3 linked regions of the Homo sapiens genome follow. The protein of the gene in region 3 interacts with the protein of the main gene of each other region in a pairwise test. Each region holds a gene or a part of one and is shown on either strand. Other genes may lie near its edges.

Evidence for each region. Proteins that work in one complex are often made in the same cells at the same time.
Region 1: the proteins of SPRED2 (region 3) and ZDHHC17 interact in binary tests that used the Homo sapiens proteins (3 or more experiments, as listed by UniProt).
Region 2: the proteins of SPRED2 (region 3) and CHAT interact in binary tests that used the Homo sapiens proteins (3 or more experiments, as listed by UniProt).

Annotation. Positions count from the first base shown.
Region 1 is NC_000012.12:76,767,108-76,774,134, reverse strand, and holds part of ZDHHC17 (palmitoyltransferase ZDHHC17), read right to left. Parts: intron 1-7,027. UniProt on the Homo sapiens protein: Palmitoyltransferase that catalyzes the addition of palmitate onto various protein substrates and is involved in a variety of cellular processes.
Region 2 is NC_000010.11:49,617,030-49,624,056, reverse strand, and holds part of CHAT (choline O-acetyltransferase), read right to left. Parts: intron 4,333-7,027; coding exon 4,141-4,332; intron 3,563-4,140; coding exon 3,444-3,562; intron 1,961-3,443; coding exon 1,907-1,960; intron 1-1,906. UniProt on the Homo sapiens protein: Catalyzes the reversible synthesis of acetylcholine (ACh) from acetyl CoA and choline at cholinergic synapses.
Region 3 is NC_000002.12:65,422,589-65,429,615, forward strand, and holds part of SPRED2 (sprouty-related, EVH1 domain-containing protein 2), read right to left. Parts: intron 1-7,027. UniProt on the Homo sapiens protein: Negatively regulates Ras signaling pathways and downstream activation of MAP kinases. Recruits and translocates NF1 to the cell membrane, thereby enabling NF1-dependent hydrolysis of active GTP-bound Ras to inactive GDP-bound Ras.

The DNA of each region.
Region 1 (7,027 bases), on a different chromosome or scaffold from region 3:
GGGACTACAGGCATGCATCACCACACCCAGCTAATTCTTTTATTTTTTTGTAGAGACAGGGATCCCACTGCTTCCCAGGCTGGTCTGGAATTGCTAGGCTCAAGCGATCCTCCCACCTCAGCCTCCCAAAGTGCTGGGATTTACAGGCACAAGCCACCGCACTCAGCCAGAAGTATATTTTACCTTATTAATGTATACTAAGCAAAAGAATAGACTGAATAAAAGAAAATTTCAAAGAGAAGGACTTTTATGGAAATGTAGTTTTATTATTTCAAGTAAAAAGGTTACTAAAAGAAGTGGCCTTAGAGCAACTGCTAAAAATGAATCCTCCCCTAGTTCCTTTAGTAACAAGGAAGAACTGATAGTTAACTCTAATAAAGTTTTTCTACTATATTGTAAAAAATAAGTAAAAAATAAATTGTATTTTGACCTATTCATGTATACAGCAAAGTACATATAAGGATTATGGGCTTGGGAGTCAGAGTTTAGGTTCTAATATAAACTATGCCAACTTTCTAATGATGTGAACCTGAGTAAACTACTTCACCTCTCTTGAATCTGTTTCCTAATCTGTAAACAGCTCAACATATACACTTTGCAGAACTACTGTGAAAAGTAAATGAACAAAACTTGGAAGCAATAAGACGTCCTTCAGTGGGTGAATGGATTTGATACACCCAGAAAATAAAATATTATTCAGCACTAAAAAGAAACGAGCTATGAAGCCATGAAAAGACATGGAGGAACTTTAAATGAATATTACTAAGTCAAAGAAGCCAATCCAAAAGGCAACATACTGCATGATTCCAACTATAAGATACTCTGGAAAAAACAAAACTAAAGAGACAGTAAAAAAAATCAGGGATTGGTGGGAAGGACATATGAACAGGCAGAACAAAGATTTTTAAGGCCATGGAACTATTCTACATGACAACATAATGGCGGACACACATTACTCTTACAAGTGTTAAGAACCTCGCCGGGTGCAGTGGCTGACACCTGTAAGCCCAGTACTTTGAGACGTCGAGGCAGACAGATCACCTGAGGTCAGGAGTTCAAGACCAGCCTGGCCAACATGGTGAAATCCCGTCTCTACTAAAAATACAAAAAATGAGCAGGGCGTGGTGGCACGTGCTTGTAGAGGTACTCGGGAGGGAGGCTGAGGCAGGAGAATTGCTTGAACCCAGGAGGCGAAGTTGCAGTGAGCCAAGAATCACGCCATTGCACTCCAGCCTGGGCAACAAGAGCAAAACTCCATCCCTCTCCCAAAGAAACAAAAACAAGCGTTAAGGCCGGGCGCGGTGGCTCACGCCTGTAATCCCAGCACTTTGGGAGGCCGAGGCGGGTGGATCACGAGGTCAGGAGATTGAGACCATCCTGGGTAACATAGTGAAACCCTGTCTCTACTAAAAAAAAAAAAAAAAATACAAAAGTTAGCTGGGCATGGTGGCACGTGCTTGTAATCCCAGCTACTCAGGAGGCTGAGGCAGAAGAACTGCTTGAACCTGGGAGGCAGAGGTTGTAGTGAGCTGAGATTGTATCACTGCACTCCAGCCTGGCGACAAAGCTAGACTCCGTCTCAAAAAAAAAAAAAAAAAACAAGTGTTAAGAACCATAGAATACACAACACGAAGAGTGAGCCCTAATGTAAACTATGGCCTTTGGGTGATAATGATGCATCAATGTAGGTTCATCTACCATAACAAGTGTACCACGCTAGTGTAGAATGTCCATACTGAGGGAGGTTATGCATGTGTACAGGCAGGGAGCATATGGGAACTCTTCGTACTTTCTGCTCAATTTTGCTACCAATATAAAACTGCTCTTAAAAAATTAAGTCTGTTCAAAAAATTCAAAAACAAAACACAAATGAGACCATTTGTAACCACAGCTAGCTAGTGCCTAGCAAATCCAACTCTATCATCTCTATCATACTGTATTGTGCTATAAAAACAGGCAACCTGGATTACTACTTAACCTCTCTATACCTCTGTTTCCTCATTTGTAAAATAGGTATAAAAAGCTGTGAGGATTAAATGAATGAATATACATGCAAAATTGTTTAGGATAGTGCCTAGCTCATACTTATAATTTGCTGGCATCTATGTCCCGGCTACATGGAAGAAAGAAGCTGGTCTGCATTTGGAGAAAATGAAGCTGAAAGGGAGAGAGGAGGAGAGATAAGAGAGTTTTGGTGGCATTCTCAGCTCAGGTTCCAGTTGTGTTTGATTTCAACTGCATCCTTGCATCCTGAGTTTAGGTTATCTGAGACAGTAAATTCCCCTTTTTGCCCAACTATGTTTCAGACAAGATTGTTGACATCTGCAACAAGAGGATCCTTACACAACAAGAAACTTCTGTCTTCAACTCAAAGAACTTTTTTTTTTTTCATGAGAATAGGGATAGTTTTGGTAACCACCAGTTTTGTTCATACCTCATTAAATCCTTCAAAAATTAATGAGTATTCATAATTGAAAAATTATTCTTAAAAACTAAACAAGGGTAGGGTATACTAACATCTCAATCAGAAGTAATTTTTCACTTCATTTTTTTCTAGAATACAACAACTGATAAAAATGCAAGCCATCTGACATATATACACAAAAAATGTCTCAGGTACTGTTAATGTTATAATCTTCATATCCCTAACAGTATCACCGATAATCAGAAAGATGATCCTAGGACACTATAATGTTCTAATTTATCAAAGAAAGATTCTATTATGTTTAGTATGTATTAACCCTAGAAAATAATTTGGCAAATTTGCAACAGGAATTGAAACAAAAACAAAAAAGTATTGTTTAATTCTCTGTAACTCAGGATACTAAGTTCACAGTATCTCATTCACAGAAGGCTGAAGTTTCACTGTACTTTCAAATTAGCTGCCTGTGGCTCCACTTTAAGAAAATTTTAAAAGAAGATATTTTATCCTAGGTCTAAATAATTATTCCACTGGGTCAAATTTTATGTATTTTATAAATATAATATTGTCTTGAATCATTATTTTTCAAATTCCAAAATTAAAATATTTGATTTTACTCTTAAATTATCCATCTGTAATAAAATCTATTCATAAAATAATACTATAATCAGATAATGCGCTGAAAGAGAATTTTACATAACCTTAATAGTGAAACATCTTTTCGGATTATGTAATTGTTGTGGGTTCTGTTAAAAGCAAACTGCATTTTTTTTTTTTTTTTTTTTTGAGATGGAGTTTTGCTCATTGCCCAGGCAGGATGGCACGATCTTAGCTCACAACCTCTGCCTCCCAGGTTCAAGCGATTCTCCTGCCTCAGCCTCCCGAGTAGCTGGGATTACAGGCATGCACCCCCATGCCCGGCTAATTTTTTATTTTTAGTAGAGACGGGGTTTCTCCATGTTGGTCAGGCTGGTCTCGAACTCCCGACCTCAGGAGATCTGCCAGCCTCAGCCTCCCAAAGTGCCGCAATTACAGGCGTAAGCCACCAAGCCCGGCCAGCACACTGCATTTTAAGACACCTTAACTGTTCAATGCTGACTACCTTAACATACCCTTACAACCCTCTCTAGGAGGAAAGGAGGACCACGAATCATTTCTAATTTTAAAAAATACACACAGACACACTCTCCCTCATCTATCCTGAGGTATCTGAAGGTCTACAGTTAATCTTACATCATTTTACAATGTGTTATTTTGTAAATGTTATTACTTCGGAGCCTAGCAAAGGGTCAAGACCATACTTGGATTCTCAATAAACACTCCCTTGTAGCAAAGCACACGTCTTTAAAAACATCAAATAGGGCAAAAGGGCTTATAATAAGAAGTCCTCTGCCCATCTTCTCTTCAATCCCCAGAGACAACCAATACTAATTATTTTAGCCACTCTAATATATGCATACTACAATTGTTTATCAATTTGAGGTACTACTTTTTACCACAATATTAATAGCCAACACTTATTGTTGTTTACTAAGTGCCAGACACAGAACTTCACATGTATTATCTCACTTAATCCTCACAACAGCCTCATAAAGTAGGTGTTATTATACCCCCATTTTAGTTTGGAAAATTGGGATGCAGAGTTCAATAACGTGCCCAGGATTGCAAGCTAGTGAGCAGAATTGAGATTTGAATCCTAACACCATTGCTCACTTTTAACCTATATACTCTTATATCCACCAACTCCACAGTCCACTCTTAATAAATACTTTTGAGATCCTCCCAAATTAAATAAAAATAATGAACAAAATAAAACAAGCCGAATCAGGAAAATGACATTTCTCAAAACCAGAACAATTTTTTGGTCAGTAATTTTCAACTCTGGCTTTGAGCACAATCCATGAAGTCTCACCAATTAATCACATTTTAATTTTATATCTATTGACTCAGTGATTACTAAGCTTAATAGTAATGCTCAGTGGTTACTGGGCTTAACAGTGGTCACTATACTAAGCATAGTAGTTACTAAGCTTAATATATAGTATTTTAAAATATACATTATTTTAAAATCTAGATTATTATTATATGACCTATAACATTTTTGCTGAATTTTTTAAAAGGCATCAAATCCTAGTGACTGCATAAAGAAGTGCTTTGAAGGAAAAGAGTTGCAGGTAACCTATGGGAAGAAAAACAACTTTCAAAGTCATTTTGTATCTGCTTTCTGAAAGCAAATGAATTACCTTATATGTGTACAAATACATATATATACACACACACATATAATATATACATAATAGGGCAAAAAGTAATAGAAAATGGCAAAATTCTTTTCACTAAAGAACAGCTTCATGGCCGAGCATGGTGGCTCATGCCTGTAACCCCAGCAGTTTGGGAGGCCGAGGCGGGTGGATCACCTGAGGTCAGGCGTTCCAGACCAGCCTGGCCAACATGGTGAAACCCCATCTCTACTAGAAATACAAAAAATTAGCCACGTGTGGTGGCAGGCACCTGTAATCCCAGCTACTCGGGAGGCTGATGCAGGAGAATCGCTTGAACGCAGGAGGCTGAGGTTGCAGTAAGCCGAGATCACGTCATTGCACTTCAGCCTGGGCAACAAGAGCGCAACTCCATCTCAAACTAAAGCAAAAAACCAAAAGCTTCAAAAAGTAGATTTTATGAAATCTGTGAGGACAGTAGATAATAGCAATAGTTTGATTTAATATTCAAACAGAAATCATCAGAAATAATAAAATGAATGTGAAATAAAAAACGTTACCATAAAAAGAGAGACGAAAATGAGAAAAAAAGGCAATAGCAGAAGTTTTGAAATAGAGAAAAAAGGAAGAAAGAAAGAGATGAAAGCCCTAGATAATCTAGGCAATCCAGTTCAAAGCTCTGAGTCAGATGGTTCTGAAATAGCCCCTGTGATACTGTGGCAGAAGGGGATATTGTGATCTCATTCTATCAAAGAGCTGAGATGACTTACTGAGGATGTACTAGTAGGTAAAATGGAAGCTGGTCATGGCTAGTCTGCTGGACCAGTAGACCAACATATGGTCTCTGTCCCTCTACGGAAGCCTTTCTTCTAACCACTCTAAATGACAGGAATCTGACACCACTTACAAGCTACATTACTTAATTCAGTACTTATTTGAATCGTCCAGTGTTTCACGTGCCTACAACTTCCCAACTAGTTATTTACCTTCTGGAAAACATATGCTATCTTTTTTATGTTATTTTAACCCATATAACCTAACACAATGCTACGTACCTAGTAGACAGATGCTCAAGTTGATTATATTGAAAAATCACAATTTAAAACCAGAACACTTGAGTCTGAAGAAATCTTAGAGGTCATCTAGTCTAGCTACTTTATCTTAAAAGCAACAAAACTGAGACCAGTTAAATACCTACTAGCTCAAGGTCACTGAGCTAGAACTAGTACCCTAATCCCTTGATCATCAGTTCTTCTTTATCCAAAGAGCCTTTAATTTCTTTCATTTCAATAAAACAAATAATCACCTATTTCAAAAGAAAACAAAGTAACAGCAGCTTCCCTTTCAGTATTCACTATATGCCAGGGCCTTCAGAAGGTACAATTTGCTTGGCAGCCTATGTGCCTAGGTCTATGAAAACTGCTTTATAAACATTAGCCTAGTTAATATTCACAATAACTGTAAAAGGTGTCACTATTAACCCAACTTTACAAATGAGAAAAATGTACTTTGACCATGATAACAGTAAGCTGCAGAAGCTACATTTTCAGTTTGTCACCACAGCTTTGGATTTTTTTTTTTTTTAAGAGAGTTTTGCTCTTGTTGCCCAGGCTGGAGTGCAATCTCGGCTCACTGCAACCTCCACCTCCCGGGTTCAAGCAATTCTCCTGCCTCAGCCTCCTGAGGAGCTGGGATTATAGGCATGTGCCACCACGCATGGCTAATTTTGTATTTTTAATAGAGACAAGGTTTCTCCATGTTGGTCAGGTTGGTCTTGAACTCCGAACCTCAGGTGATCCGCCCGCCTCGGCCTCCCTAAACCCTGGGATTACAGGCGTGAGCCACCACGCCCAGCCAACTTTGGCTCTTAACCAGTATTCTACACTGCCTCTCACTGAACACCAAAAATATCCTGAAGTCTCACACAGACTCCAGCACAATTCCTTACCCAAACATGACAAACAAATGTTTAAATGACCAACTAAATGAGTGGATGATTTAATTCATTAAAAAGTAAGATTATCTTACCTAAAATACCTCTAAAAAGGCGTTTATCTAATTGTATAATCCTCTAAGAAAGGTTTTAACAGTGGGCAGTTTGCATACTAATAAGAGATTTAAGCAATGCTCATTTCTTTACCCACAAATAATTCATCTGCTTAACAAATACTAAAGTGAAAAACTGTTTTTGTGTGAGAGTATTAAATTGGAAGATAAAAAGTGAAATGAAATTTGTTCCTGCAAGATCCTATTCCACTAAATTAAAACCCACATAAGTTTTAAATCAGTCACCAAAACCAAAATAAATGTGTAACACTTCCCTTTCTTCTGGTAGAGAAAAAAGAAGTAACATTAACTGAGCACCTACAATGTGCCAGTTCTTGAC
Region 2 (7,027 bases), on a different chromosome or scaffold from region 3:
TCTTGGTGCAGTGAAAGCCCTTGGGAGGCTTTAGCACGCAGGGGCATGACTGGGTTTCCATTTTGTTGTTTTACTGACCCTGCTTATATGGGGAGAATGGACTGAAAGGTGTCACAGGAAGAACAAGGAAGGAGGTTGTGGCAGAGAAGGAACGTGATGTCTTGTGAGGGCAGCAGGGAAGGAGGAGGGAGCTTGGGGACACAGTGGGGAGGGAGAATGACCACATCTGAGCACCATGGGTTACATGAAGGTGCAAGGGAGAAAGCAGAACAAGCACAGGTGACTTCTAGGTTCCCAGACTCACCAACAGGGCATGTGCTGGTGCACTTACGGACATGGCTCGACAAGGTATGGGAGGAGTTGGGGAATGGGGAGGGAGAGGCGAAGCTCTCCTGGCTCATTTGTAATGACTGAGAGACACCCCGGTGGGGATGGCTGAGGCTTGGATGAGCGAGTGTGGGACTCAGGGGAAGGGACACAGCTGTATTTTGTGTCTGTTTAAGTGACTGTCTTGCCCAATAGTCTAAGGACATTTTGAGGGGAGGATGAGGCCTTATTTCTCTTCCTCTTCCCAGCATAACTACATTGCAAAGTGAATAAGTAAATTAATTAATTAATTAATTAAAGGTTCAAAACAGGCACTCAGGAAAATGTTCCAGTCTTAAGTCCTTTTCAATCATTGGACATGGGAACCTCCACGTGGATATGCATGGGTATTCGTGTCTGTGTGAGTGTGCACACACATGTGAAAGTCTGGGATCAGAAGGAAAGTGGTCTCGTGGGGGCAGTCAGTGATGAATGGGCACCAAGTCCCCAGGCCCAGCAAGACAATGGTGTTTGAAAACAGACAGGACGGTGAGCTGGAGGGGCGAGTTCTGGGAGGAAATAGAATGCTGTCCACGAAGAAGGGAGAGACCAAAGACACACCATGAGGAGACAACAGCCCAGGGCCTAGTGACCCATGGCATTTAGAGAGGAGTGAGCAGAGCACACAGGAGCGTGTGGTGCAGAATGCCCTGGACAGCCTGAACTGCTCCACCCTGACAGTCTGGGAGCTCTGCCTGCCCCTCTCCAGAGGGAACAGCCCTACCCTGGAAGGGGCTGTGGGTCTGAGCCTCTGTCCCAAGGCTGGGTAAAGACTGAATTGAGTCAAGTTGAACAAAGAGTGAAGTTTGCCCCTTGCCCCCTCCTTGCTCTGCCACCACCTGGCTGTGTAACCATGGATGAGTTACTTAACCTCTCTGAGCTGCAGCTTCCTCATCTGTGCAAGGGATGCTTCTTTGGGCCTCTCTCTCTCCTTCCAGCTTCTAATGCCCTTATAGTCTCTACCTTGAGAGACTTGGGTCCTCCAGACCCGCTTACTCTCCCTGCTGCTCTCAGACACCCTCCTGCTCTCCTAAGCTTGGCCAGGAGAGGGACTTTCTTCCTAAAATCAAAGAGAGCCTGCGGTGCTTGAGCAGCCCTCTCCATCTGTCAGAACAGCCTCATGTCCACTGAGCTTGGTGGGATTGAGGATACAGTCTCCCGCTGGAGACACCATTCCTCCAAGTGGCAAAGCAGAACTCCCATCACCTTACTCTAACAACTCTTCCTTCCCCGCCTTCCTATGTGTTCTCCAGCTTCAAGTGAATTCACTCCACCTGTGCACGTATGTGTGGAGGGAGGAGACATTTTTAAAAGATCAAGGAAGGATGGTGCTTGCCACAGGAAAAGGAACAGTTAACAGACAGGCCAGCCAGGCTAAAGGTCATCCTGATGGTGGGGGAGTGGGTTGGGGCAGGGACATCTGCTCTGTGCCAGGAGCCAGGAATGGGAATACAGAGCTGGAAAAAGACAAGGTCCCTGCAAGGGAGATAGACGCATAGGCAGACTGTGCTGGAACAGGGCACCACCCTCCCAGTCCTACCTGTCCAGCAGGGCCTTGTAGCTGAGTACACCAGAGATGAGGCTGGCTGCAAACCTGCAGGGAGAAGGGAGGCCTGAGCCCTTCCTCCCAGGGCCTGGCTTCCTCCCTCCCTCCCTCCCTTCTGCCTCCCCTCCCTCCTTCCCTCTTCCTTCCATCTCCTTCCTCTTCCCTCCCTTCTCCCTCCCTCCTCCCTCCCTCATCCCCACTGCCAAACTCTGTGATCGCCCATTGTATGCCGCCCCCGTGTGCACTAATCAGATGTGGTTCCTGCACTAATCAGATGTGGTTCTTGCCCCCCAGCCCCATGCCGAGAGCCCACCACAAGCCTTGGATTCAAAATGGTCCTTTGGTGAGAACTGGGGGTCGAGTAGCTCTTGGGGAAGGGAGAGGAAACTGGAATCATCTTGAAGAGGAGAGGGAGCAGAGAGGGAGACGGAAGCTAGGAGAGGCCACAGAGCAGGCCAGAAGGGGTGGAGGGTGAAGGGTGGAGTTCTTCCTTGGAAAAGCCAGCCCTGGGTCTGGACAGGGCAGGACCCCTGGCCTTGTGGAAAATTTTCTCCTGGGAAAAGCCAGTAATTTGGTCCCTTTCCTCCCACCCCCCGGTACTAATGAAAAGGAAATCGAGTGCTTGGGGAAAGGCACTGGAGAAACGAGCAGCGGGAACTGTCATACCAGGATTCTGGGCCTGGCTTAATTGCACCAGGAGGAAAATACCCCCTCAGATGCAATTGTGAGAACTGTTTTCAGAAGTCATTCATCTGTCCACACCTTCCTTCTTCCCTGGGGAGACCCCAGCTACAGTGGGAGGGAAGGCTGGCCAGCTGGTAGGGTGGGGTGGGGAGGTCTTCCTAGCATGGCTAAGCCCTGCCCAGAGGAGAGGTGGGCCCTGCCTCTTGTCCTCGGGCCACTTTGGTCTGCCCTCCCTCTAAACCGTCCCCACCATTTGCCCCACTCAGGTCTTAAGACCAGACTCTGAGTGACTCCAGAAGGGAAACCCTTTCTCCCTGCACCCATCCTCCATTGTCATTAGCGGCCAGAGGCCCTTCCAACGGCTCAGTGAGCTCTGAAATTACAGCAGATGGCACAGGCTCTGGCTGCTGGCAGGGAGGAATTGTTTCCAGCCTTCTGGGGCCTCTGTTTAGAGCTGGGGGCTCTGGAAGGAAGCAGAGGCCCTCTCAGACAGCCTGGGGCAGTGTTTCCCAGGGACAAGTACTGGCGTGGTCCAGGGACACACGCCTCCTCCCAGGGCCTCAGCCAGGTGGAGGCTGTGGGGATATTTGGACCCATGACCTCCATGAGTGTCCATTCCACTGCAAGATAAATATAGACTAAGGCTAATTGTGTGATTGTCACTCGAGTGCAGCCACACCTAACCTTGCTCCCCACCTGATGGCCTGGACGTCCACTGTCTCGGGGCATTTGACCCCAGGAAGCTCAGCCGAGGCTCCAGCTTTGGCCTTTCTTTGCTGGCACTGGGGTAAGGGCCCCTGCCTTGGGTGGGTCCCCAGGTTATGAGCTAGGAGCACCAAGGCCTCACCTCAGCTGGTCATCGGTGCCAGGGAAGTGCTGCCGAGCAAAGATCACGGCAGGGCTGGAGTTGACAGGCAGGGCCAGGCGGTTGTTGAGATACATGTCATTCAGCCAGTACTCAGACACCTGCCGGGGAGGGCAGGGAAGGCCGTCACATCCCCCCAAACAGTCCCATCCTGACAGCCCCGAGAGAAAATCGGGACACTTCACCAGAGCATTAATTCATTCATTCCACAAATATATGCTAAGCCCCAGGTATGTGCCAGGAGCTTCCCAGTCCACCAGGCCTGTCCTTCACCTTTGTGCCCTCCTGTCTCCTTTCTTCTGTCCCAGTCCCCATCCTGGTGGCTTGGTGCTACATCGCTGTCCTCTGCCTGTCCTTACAGGTGTCTTCTTCCTGCCTTTCACCCTCTCTTCTTTCCTAATGCGATCTCTGTCCTCATCTGTCCCAATTCCTGTCCCCGATTTGTCCGCCTCTTTCTCTATCCGTATTTCCCATTCCTCATCTTGTTTGTTTCTCATCCTTGTCCCTTCCTGTCCTCCAATCCATGCCACCTGCCTGTTCCCACACCTATCCCCCATCCCTGTCCCTCATCTCTCCTTCTGCCCTGTCTTTGTCCCCTACCTGCCTCTCACCGAGATCCCTCTGTCTCCAGGTCTGCCTCCCGCCCCTCTTCTATGGGTTCCTTGTCTGCCCCTCTTACCCAGTTGGCTGTCTTCTCCTGCCGCTCCAGGAGTTTCTGCTGCAGGGTCTCGCCGAGGCCACCAGGGGCCCCAAACTGCTGCACAATGGCCTGGCTCTTCCTGAACTGCTCCTCAGACACCAAGTGTCGCATGCACTGCAGGTACGTGGCCAGGGTCTGCTGCAGCGGGGGCACGGGCAGTTTGGGCAGCCCCTGGAAGAAAGGGTTCATAGGCATTGTGCCTCTAGTATGTGCGCCCCATGCCTGTCCCCAAGTTGGTCCCTAGTATCTGTATTGTTCTGCCCCTGTGTTGTTCTCTACCCTGGGACCCCTCCATTTCTAGGGCTCAGCTCAGCAAAATTATGAATTTAGGAAGTTCCTGTTTGGCGTCCCTGACCTCATTGTGCTCTGTCCCCAGAAAGGGATAAAGTGCAGAGGAAAATACGGTGATATTGGCATCAGACAGACCTGGGTTTCTACCCTGACCCTGCCACTGACCAGCTCTGCAAACTTGGGCAAATCAGCCTCCCTCTGTGCCTCAGTTTCTTCCTCTGTAGAATGGGAGTAGTAACCCCTATCTCTCATAGGATCAAACAGAAAATAGATATGAAAGTGCTTTTAAGCCATAAAGGATGGATCTAAGATGAAATAGTCCTGTTATTGATATTGTTGGCTGCTGGTGACTCTTAATTTAGAGATTGTTCCCAGCTGGGGCTCCAGAATCTGATTGATCTCTGGACCTGAAGGGGGCACTCTTAGGGAGAGATTTGGAAGGATAAAAGATGGTTTTGGATGAGAGACATAATTCAGTGCTGCCCTAATGACTAGAATTCTAAAAGAGGGTTCCTCAGAAGATGATTCATGCCCTGAGCTTCTTATAAGTCCCTCCTACTTATAAAACCCAGGCAGGGAATTTTGTTTCATGTGGGTGTTAGGGGCAGGGGTGGGGATGCAGTGGATGTCCTTCCTCTCCGAATCTCTCCAAGCCTCTGCTCCTCATCCATAGGACATAAATAACAATTCCTACCTGAGAGGAACACAGAGAGAATTAAATGGGGGAACAACTGGCCTCAAATAGGCACATCTAAAATGTTATGACCTCGCTATCTTATACTTCCAGAGGAATTCCCAAGAGGAAACCCATATTCTTTGGGGGCCCCAAAGTGTGGCTAGAGTCTAGGAAGAACCCCCAACTCCACCCTTCTATACGCATGCTGTGCCTCTCAGTTCACCAGCAGCGTTCACCACAGAAGGCTTCTGTGTGGCTTCAATTTTGTGACTTCCCATTTATGAATGAGGAAACTGAGTCCCAGAGAGTGGAGCAGCTGGTCCAAGGTCACATACAAATCTGATGGCAGACTAGGAGCTAAAATCAGTCTTCCATGTCCACTCTGCTTCTTTCTCCTGGGTCGTTCTCTCCCTTCCCTTTCACTCCCTTTTCCATTCGTTTCCTCTTCTTGTCCCTCACTTGGCCAGTGACAATAGGAAGGCAGAACTTATAATAATATTGCTTAAATTGTACAGTTTCTTCTCCTGTAAAATGGGGGTAGCAAACCCTGCCTTTCATAGGATTAAAGAGCTAATGTACGTGAAAGTGCTTTTAAGCCATAAAGGATAGATCTAAGATGAAATAGTCCTGTTATTGATATTGTTGTCTCCTGGTCAGTCTTAATTTATAAACTGTTCTCAGCTGGGGCTCCAGAATCTAGCTGATCTCCGGACCTGAAGGGTGTACTCTTGTGGAGAGATTTGGAAGGATAAAAGATGGCTTTGGATAAGAGACATAATTCATTGCTGCCCTAATGACCAGAATTCTGCAATATGGTTCCTGGGACACACTGGTAGACAGTGAGGCACCTTCCTTCAGGGGCTTCTTTGTGCAGTGATGAGTTTCCATGAGACAGTAAAGGGTTCCTCCCCATAGGCTGCAGAGTGAATGGGCCCCTTAAAAGCACCTCCTTCTCTGCCCCTGCTGCTGATGGATGAATGACGGCCCTCTGCCTGTCTGATCCTGCCTCTAGGGTTCACTTCTCTGGCAACAGTGGGGTGTCAGTGCCAACTACGGGCTGCTCCTGCCCTGGGGAATGATGCGAGGATGGATCTGGACAGCATCCCAGACTGCCCTGCCCAACCCCAGTGAGCCAGGTCTGGGCCCCCAACCCAGCTGATCTTGTTCTTCCATCTCTTGCGGTGGGGGGGGTGGTCTGTGTGATGGGTGGGTGAGCACCTACAGAAAGCCCAGCCCAGTTAGTGACCTGGCCAAAAGGGCCCACAAGTCTGGCTAGATCCTCTGCCAGACACTGCTCCCCTTCTTCCAGGCTCTGACAGTGCGCTGTGACTTAGCCTGGCTAACAGGGAATCAGCAGTGGGTAAAAAGGAATAAAGCAGGAAATCGCAGCTCAGACATCTCAACCCCCCAGGGATCCTCCCCAGACTCTCCTGGACTTCTGGCCCTGTGCTAAGGAGTGTCTTTGGACCTGGGAGTCTCAGATCAATGCTCCAAAACTCCATGTTTCCTGGGCAGTTCATGTGAGTCAGATCCTGGGCTGGACTCAGAGACGATGGAGAAACAGAGCCTGCTCTGAAGGAAGCCACAGCCCAATGGGGTGGGTAGAGAAGCATGCCAGTGGACCAGAGGTGACAATAGATGTTTGTCAGCTGCAGAATTCAGGGCAATGGAGTGAACAGCTTCTTGGGGAGAAGCCAGAAAATTCTGCTCAGGGTTTCAAATGAGGGCTGGGGGAAAGGGGAAGGGGGAAGGGGGAAGAGGAGTGGCAAAAAGACAAGTGTGGGAGAGGGGAAACACATGCAACCACCTGAAGTCAGGTGTGTTGCTCTGCCACCCGAAGGCTGGCTGGGGCGGGAGGGAGGATGCCTGCCCAGGGAGGATGGCATTGTCTCAGGCCAG
Region 3 (7,027 bases):
CAATAATTTACACATAATTTTGCAACTGGGGCCTAAGTACATTCTAAATTCAAGTTATTCCGATTCACAGTATATCACACTCCAAATCAACACCTATAATCTAGTATCCCCAATTTTCCTTAGTACAAAAGACATCTTAGAATGGACGGTAAGGTCTTCAAAGGTTTTTTGTTGTTGTTTTTTATTTTAACAAACAGCAGAGTACTGTTCTGAAGTGTGCTCACACACAGATCAATGAGAAGGCAACCAATTATTAGGCCTTCAGGGCCAGAGGTGAGCTGTTGAGCCCAGGCACATCATTCTAGCAAGGCAGATTTGCTTTGCGAGTCTGAGCCTGAGAAAAAAATCAAACTTGACTTAACCTTTAAGCAAAAGGGAGAAATGTAATAACTATATTAAGACTATAGTCACACTTACGCTGCTTTAAAAGATCTATAAAAATGAGTAAAATTACTGGGATGTTGATAAATTAAACCTCTAGTCTAGCACTATGTCTGTATTCCCACTCCATCGTCCACTTTATTCCTTGGCTGGAAAAATAAAATGAAATGCCAAACATGGCATTCAAGTAGACAAAACATGTCATAAGCCAAGTGACTCCTAAGAGGATGGTCAGTCCCACCCATCCACACCAAGCCTACTGACTTTTGTTTTAGAGAGAATTTGAATGCTGCTGGTAATAAGGTATCTAGACCACATATCAGGAATGGCGTAGGGATGGCAGGGGAGCCAAGGATGCTATTACAGGTAGGTACTCTTACCCTAAGAGAACAGACAAGCTATAAAACTCAGAATCTCAAAAAGCACAGCCAACTGGGATCACTGAGTAAAGGGGCCAATGGTCAGCTGGGCATTATTGATTATCACAGTACAAAAACTACCAGGACACCATTAGAAAGCCAAAAGAAACAGTCAGTCTTAGAACATGACTTCTAAATCCTAATTATCCTCCCACAAGCTCCCTGAGGAGCCTTGAGCAAGTCATTTCAGCTCTCTAAGGTACAAAGTGAAAATCTTGTTTCCTGCCTTGTAAAGTTCATGGATCTCCTCTGCCTTGTAAATTCTGAAAAGAAAGAACACCTTATTACATGATGGGGGACAGACCTGGGGTAGATGGATGCTACTGAATCTCAATTTCTCAGGTGCTGTGCTAAAATGTTTTACCAAGGCTACCTCATTTATGCTTTTTTTTTTTTTTCTTTGAGATGGAGTTCTGCTCTTGTTGACCAGGCTGGAGTGCAATGGTGCAATCTCTGCTTAGCACGATCTCTGCTTGGCATAACCTCCGCCTCCCAGGTTCAAGCGATTCTCCTGCCCCAGCCTCCCGAGTAGCTGGGATTACAGGCATGTGCTAGCATGCTCAACTAATTTTGTATATTTAGTAGAGATGGGGTTTCTCCATCTTGGTTGGGCTGGTCTCGAACTCCTGACCTCAGGTGGTCGGCCCACCTCGGACTCCCAAAGTGATGGGATTACAGGCATGAACCACCATGCCTGGTCCATTTCTACTTTTTAACAGCCTATTAGGTATACAGCAGAATGAACCTCATTTACATTAATCCAGGGCTGGTGGCTTGGGATACTTAGCAGGGTCCCTTAGTGGCAGGGGAAGAGGTACGGTCTCACTCCAAAGTCCATGATTCTTCCACTACCATCATGGCAGCCTCTCCTTTAGTAGTTTTGAAAAAGCAACTCAAAGTCTTTTTTGGATATAGGTATCCAAAAAAGATAATTGTTAAATTGTGAAAAATTGTTAAATTTTTATACACGGTACAATTATTTTTTCAATTAATGAATAGTTACTTCAACCAATTGATAACTGTTTACAGAAAGCCTACTATGTGCTCAGTGTTCTGCCAGGCCATGGGTATGAGGGTTAATAAATTATTCTCAAAGGGCATGGTGGTGTACACCTGTGGTCGCAGCTACTTGGGAGGCTGAGATGGGAGCACTGCTTGAGCCCAGGAGTTCAAGGCTCCAGTAAGCCATGATTGCACCCCTGCACTCCAGCCTGGGCAACAGAGCAAGACCCCATCTCTAAAAAAAAAGTAATAAAAATAAAAGATAAAGCTATTCCCATGCCAGGTGCAGGTGGCTCATGCCTATAATCCCAGCACTCTGGAAGGTCGAGACAGGAGGACTGCTTAAGGCTAGGAGCTGAAGGCCATCCTGGGCAACGTTAAGAAGACCTCACCTCTACTAAAAATTTAAAAATTAGCCAGGTGTGGTGGCGCACACCTACAATCCCAGCTACTCAGGAGGCCAAGGCAGAAGGATCACTTGGAATACTCCAGCCTGGACAACAGATCAAGAGTCTGTTTCAAAAACAAACAAACAAACAAACAAACCTATTCCCACACCTAGAAAGACAGATGGGCCAAGCTTCTCTGTGCATTCTCAGTTAGTATGGATGCAAATACAAAATAAACAGTGCGTATCTGAAAAGTCAGTACTGGAGGCCAGAGCCAAAGCAAAGCAGTAAGAAAAAGAAACAAGAGGAATAAATAATGAAAATGAAAAGACAAAGATGTCATTACCAGATGAACAAATGAAAGTCAATTAAAAACTTAACTGATAATTAAGTTTTAAGCATTTATAAATGGACCACAGGAAATATATCAAAGAATAAAAACAACCAGATCTGAAAAATCGTTATTTCAGGACACAGAGGAGCCAAAACCATACATTTTAGAAGCTCCCAATATTTGTTCTAATCTCTTCAATCACAAGTGTTAAATGCTAAGGGTGAAGTCAAAATCTGTTTCTTTACCTTTACCCTCTAAGTGCAAGTAAACACAGAAAGTTTGTTTTTAAATAAATATTCAACTACCCTTTGAGAGTAGCAGGAAGAACATAAGCACAATTTGATAATACGTGTGCAATATGCCACATGTGAACATAATGTTGATAAAGGTTACATGAGAAAGGGAAATGGGTAGTTATGAAACAATTGTTACTTAATTTAGCAAACTCCCATGATCCTGGCCTGACTTTCTTTCCATGACATGGGACATATGTCAAGATGTAACAATCCTTCATGTCTATCCAGGGAAAGCATATAAAAAATATATTTTGTTCCACGGGGCACTGGAGCATCAATACAAAATATTTCTTCTACTTCAAAGTCACTAAGAGCCCTAGAAAATGCCTTAAAAGCACCATCACAATGTTCTAGATTTAAATAGTAATTTTTAAATATTTCTAAGAATAAGTTATCAAGTTTATTGAGATGACGGGGTCTTTTTAAAAAACTCGGCCTAATTTACCTTAGTAAAAACAAGCCCAAACAAATAATCACATACACCAAAACTTTCTGGTCTGCCTCTATTATCACTTGTTCAATTTCTGAAAATTTTGCTGTTAGACTGTATTTGTGTTCAGCCGGCAATACAAGAATGATGCCAATATTGGAGTTCATCAGCACAGCTGTATCCACCCTCAAGTGTTAAGACTCCAGCAGAACCCTGCAGCTATTGAAAATTGTTAATACTGTGATTTCTGCAGAGATTCTCCTACAGAGGCATAGAAACAGGCCCTGTCTTATTGTGGTCAAGATTTTTTACTTGTCAGTTCTCGCAACAATGAATGGAATAAAAATGGGTTTTGAGTTACCAATGACAGATCACTACCACCAGATAGTTCTGCATGGAATTTCCACAAAATACCAGAGGCTCAATGTGAACATGGTTGAGTTTCTCAGGAGGCTTATATATATATATACCCTAAGTTAACCAAATACAACAATTGTAATTATTGCATTAGTCAGTAGGGATGAAACAGCACTTTAAAATAATTAAATCCATTATTTTATTCAATAGACATTAAGCAACCACAATGTGCCCAATGGTGTTGGGCCAACAACTAGAAAACTAGGCATTTGAGAAGTAACCTTGAATCCAAAAAACTCAAATTCGGATGCAGAATCTAGCTGGGTATAAGCCCAACTTGAAATAATAATTGCCATGTAATGTAGGGAAAAAAATAATACACACAGACATTGATTTTGACTTGCATTTTGACTTTGACTTGATTTTGACTGGGAGGAGGGGGTTATGGTGGGAAAGTCAAAAAGGACCACCCAAACGCAATGGCTCAGAGATGGCTGGGGGCATGAGCAGAATGTCACCTACTGGAGAAGTGAAGGAAGAAAGAAGAGAATTTCAGAATAAAAGCAAGAGTAAGCAAATTGCTAAGGCAAAACAGTTTTGGGTATTGCTACTGATCCACTTTGTATATATTGTACTGGATAAAAGGACAGGAAAGCAGAGGGGACCAGCTTTAGTTAGAAAGGAGGTTGCATTTGCTAATATTCCCATGGAAACAAACCCAGACCACAACCAGCTGATGGAGCTTAGTCCACTCCAGGTCTACCACCTCACTAGCTGTTCAGCCTTGCACTAGGCACTTAAGTTTATACTATGACAGGTCCTAGCTTACAAGCTCCTTAAGGTCTTTTCAGGTTTTTTTTGTTTTTTCTTACTTTTAAGATTTTTTTTTCCTGGAGACAGGGTGTCACTCTGTCGCCCAGGCTAGAGTGCAGTGGTACGATCACAGCTCATTGCAGCCTCGACCTCCTGGCCTGAAGCCATCCTCTCCCCTCAGCCTCCTGAGTAGCTGGGACTACAGGTGTGCGCTACCACACGCGGCTAATTTTTATTTTTTATTTTTTTGGTAGAGACAGGGTCTCACTGTGTTGCCCAGGCTGGTTTTCCTGGCCTCAAGCTATCATCCTCCAGGCCTGGGTCTCCAGTAGTGTGGGGATTTTCTGAGGAATAAATCAAGATTCTAATTCTGCACAGTCAACTCCATATTTTTAACATTTAAGGGTTCTACTCATGTATAGTAGAACCATACCCCCTGGTAGAAACATACCTCCCTTTTTAAGGCAAACACAAAGAAAATGGATCAATACTCACTGTATCGGTTTAATTTCCACAACTGTTATTTCAGTTAACATAGATCTAACATTCCAATAATAACCAACTCTGAATTTGCACTACTCCCATTATCTTTGAGGTGTATCACAGAATTCTCAAGCCCAAATTTATTTAAATCCATTTTAATTCAGTATGCCCCTCATGCTTCACAGCATTTTCTGGGAAGATAAGTGAAGTGAGAAAAATGATGGCAATGACAGATTGTCACCAGTTCAGAAGAATAATGAACAAGCATGATTGGCAGAAAGGCTGCGAGCTCTGAGTCAGAACGACTGAGGCTGGACCACCCCAATGGTTCATAGTGGTTAGTTAAGAGCACAGAGACCTTCCTGAACCAGGCTACTGGAGTGCTCCATTCCCAGCTCCTTCAGTTACTCACAGGATGACCTTGAGGAAAGGACTTCACCTCTCTGTGCCTCACTTCTCCCTATTATAATAGGGATAATAATACCAACTACCTCGCAGGATTTTTAAGAAGACTAAATGAATAAAGTGCTTTAAAAAAATGTTTGCTGTCTCGGGCAACTAACTTGACCTTGGCTTTCTCATCAGTTAAATGGGGGTAATACCTTCTTCACAGGGTTATCTGAAAATGAAGCTCAGCCTGAAAGAAATCTATCTCAGTGCCCTGCAAAGAGCCACATAGGGCACCTGTTTTATGCCTAGCCCTGTACTATAAGCTTTACGTAGGCTGTCTCATTTAATTCTCACAGCAGCTCCACAAAATAGGTAGTGTCTATTCCCATTTTGTCCACTCCATATAAAACTGACATGACATATGAAAGTAAACTGCCTTAGATCATAAAGTGAGCAAATGGCTAAGCCTTAAGCCTTAAATACACGTTACAAACGCATTTAACTCGGGGTCTTCGATTGGTCTCTGGCTGAATAACCAGTTATAAAAGACATTTTTGCAGACAATTCAGGCAGAGTGTTAAAGACACCAGGGAATTATTAATTTTGTAAAATGTGATAATAGTATTGTGGTTTCACAGAACAGTATTTTTATCTCTTGAGAAGTAAGCTCAAATATTTAGGTACAACAGTCCCAATGTCTGCAATGTCTTTGAAATGGTTCAGCAAAAATACTTACACCTGTTTTATTAATGGGAAACATTTCAACGTTAGGGAAAATATGACTGAAAGGGAAGCTGCAAATCCATTCCCAGCAAGAAGTGGGTTACAGAGAAGAGTTCATGAAAGGAACAAAAGAAAAAGCTGAATGGCAGCTCGATGTCTCCAGGGTTAGAGCTTGGTTCAGTAAGGTTTATCTTGTCTGCAAATTTCCAAACCATTCATAGCCATGATCAAACGCTTTAAAGATAGTGACAAAATAGGTATGGATTTAAAAAAATTTTCCAACCCTATGCACAGAGGACGACTTACAATAGTTTGCTGATGCTCTTCGCTTCTTAAATTATATTTTTAAAAGTCTGTATAATTGTAAATTTTAACATGCATTTTTATGTGGAGGGGGGACGAAAGAGAATGGTCAGTGTATTTTCTATATGGAAGATATCTTTTGGGACCATTATCAACAAGAGCAAAGAAACTTTCCTGAATTACCATATATTAGAAGAATTTTAAATTGACATGGAAAACAACATTAGAAAACAAAACATTATTTTTTTAAATTAAGCACAATTTTACCATTTGCAAGATTCTGATTTACTGCATTCTGATGCTAAATGAAACAGATATTATCTGGACCATTCAACAAAACCTTTACTACATGTAGACTATCAAGTCTATTTTACCTAAAGTACAAATATATCTTTCCTAGGTCTCCAGTTTGATGCCACCAGTTCTCTTAAGTAGCAAACCCTGCCTGGTTCCAAAGGTATCTGAGAGACCTCAAACATAAAATCATTACAAGAAAAAAACAGATCAAATTCACCCAAAGTAGGAATCTAGCAAAAATCTAACCAAATATGGCTACCTTAATCAAACAATAATTTTAGCTCTAGACTTAAAGACAGTGGCAGCAAACAACAATAAAACAACAAAAAAGCAATCACAGCAAGCTCTGTAATTCAGAGAGAAAAACCTTACTGTCACTAACATTTAAAAGGAATTTTTCAGATGCGTCA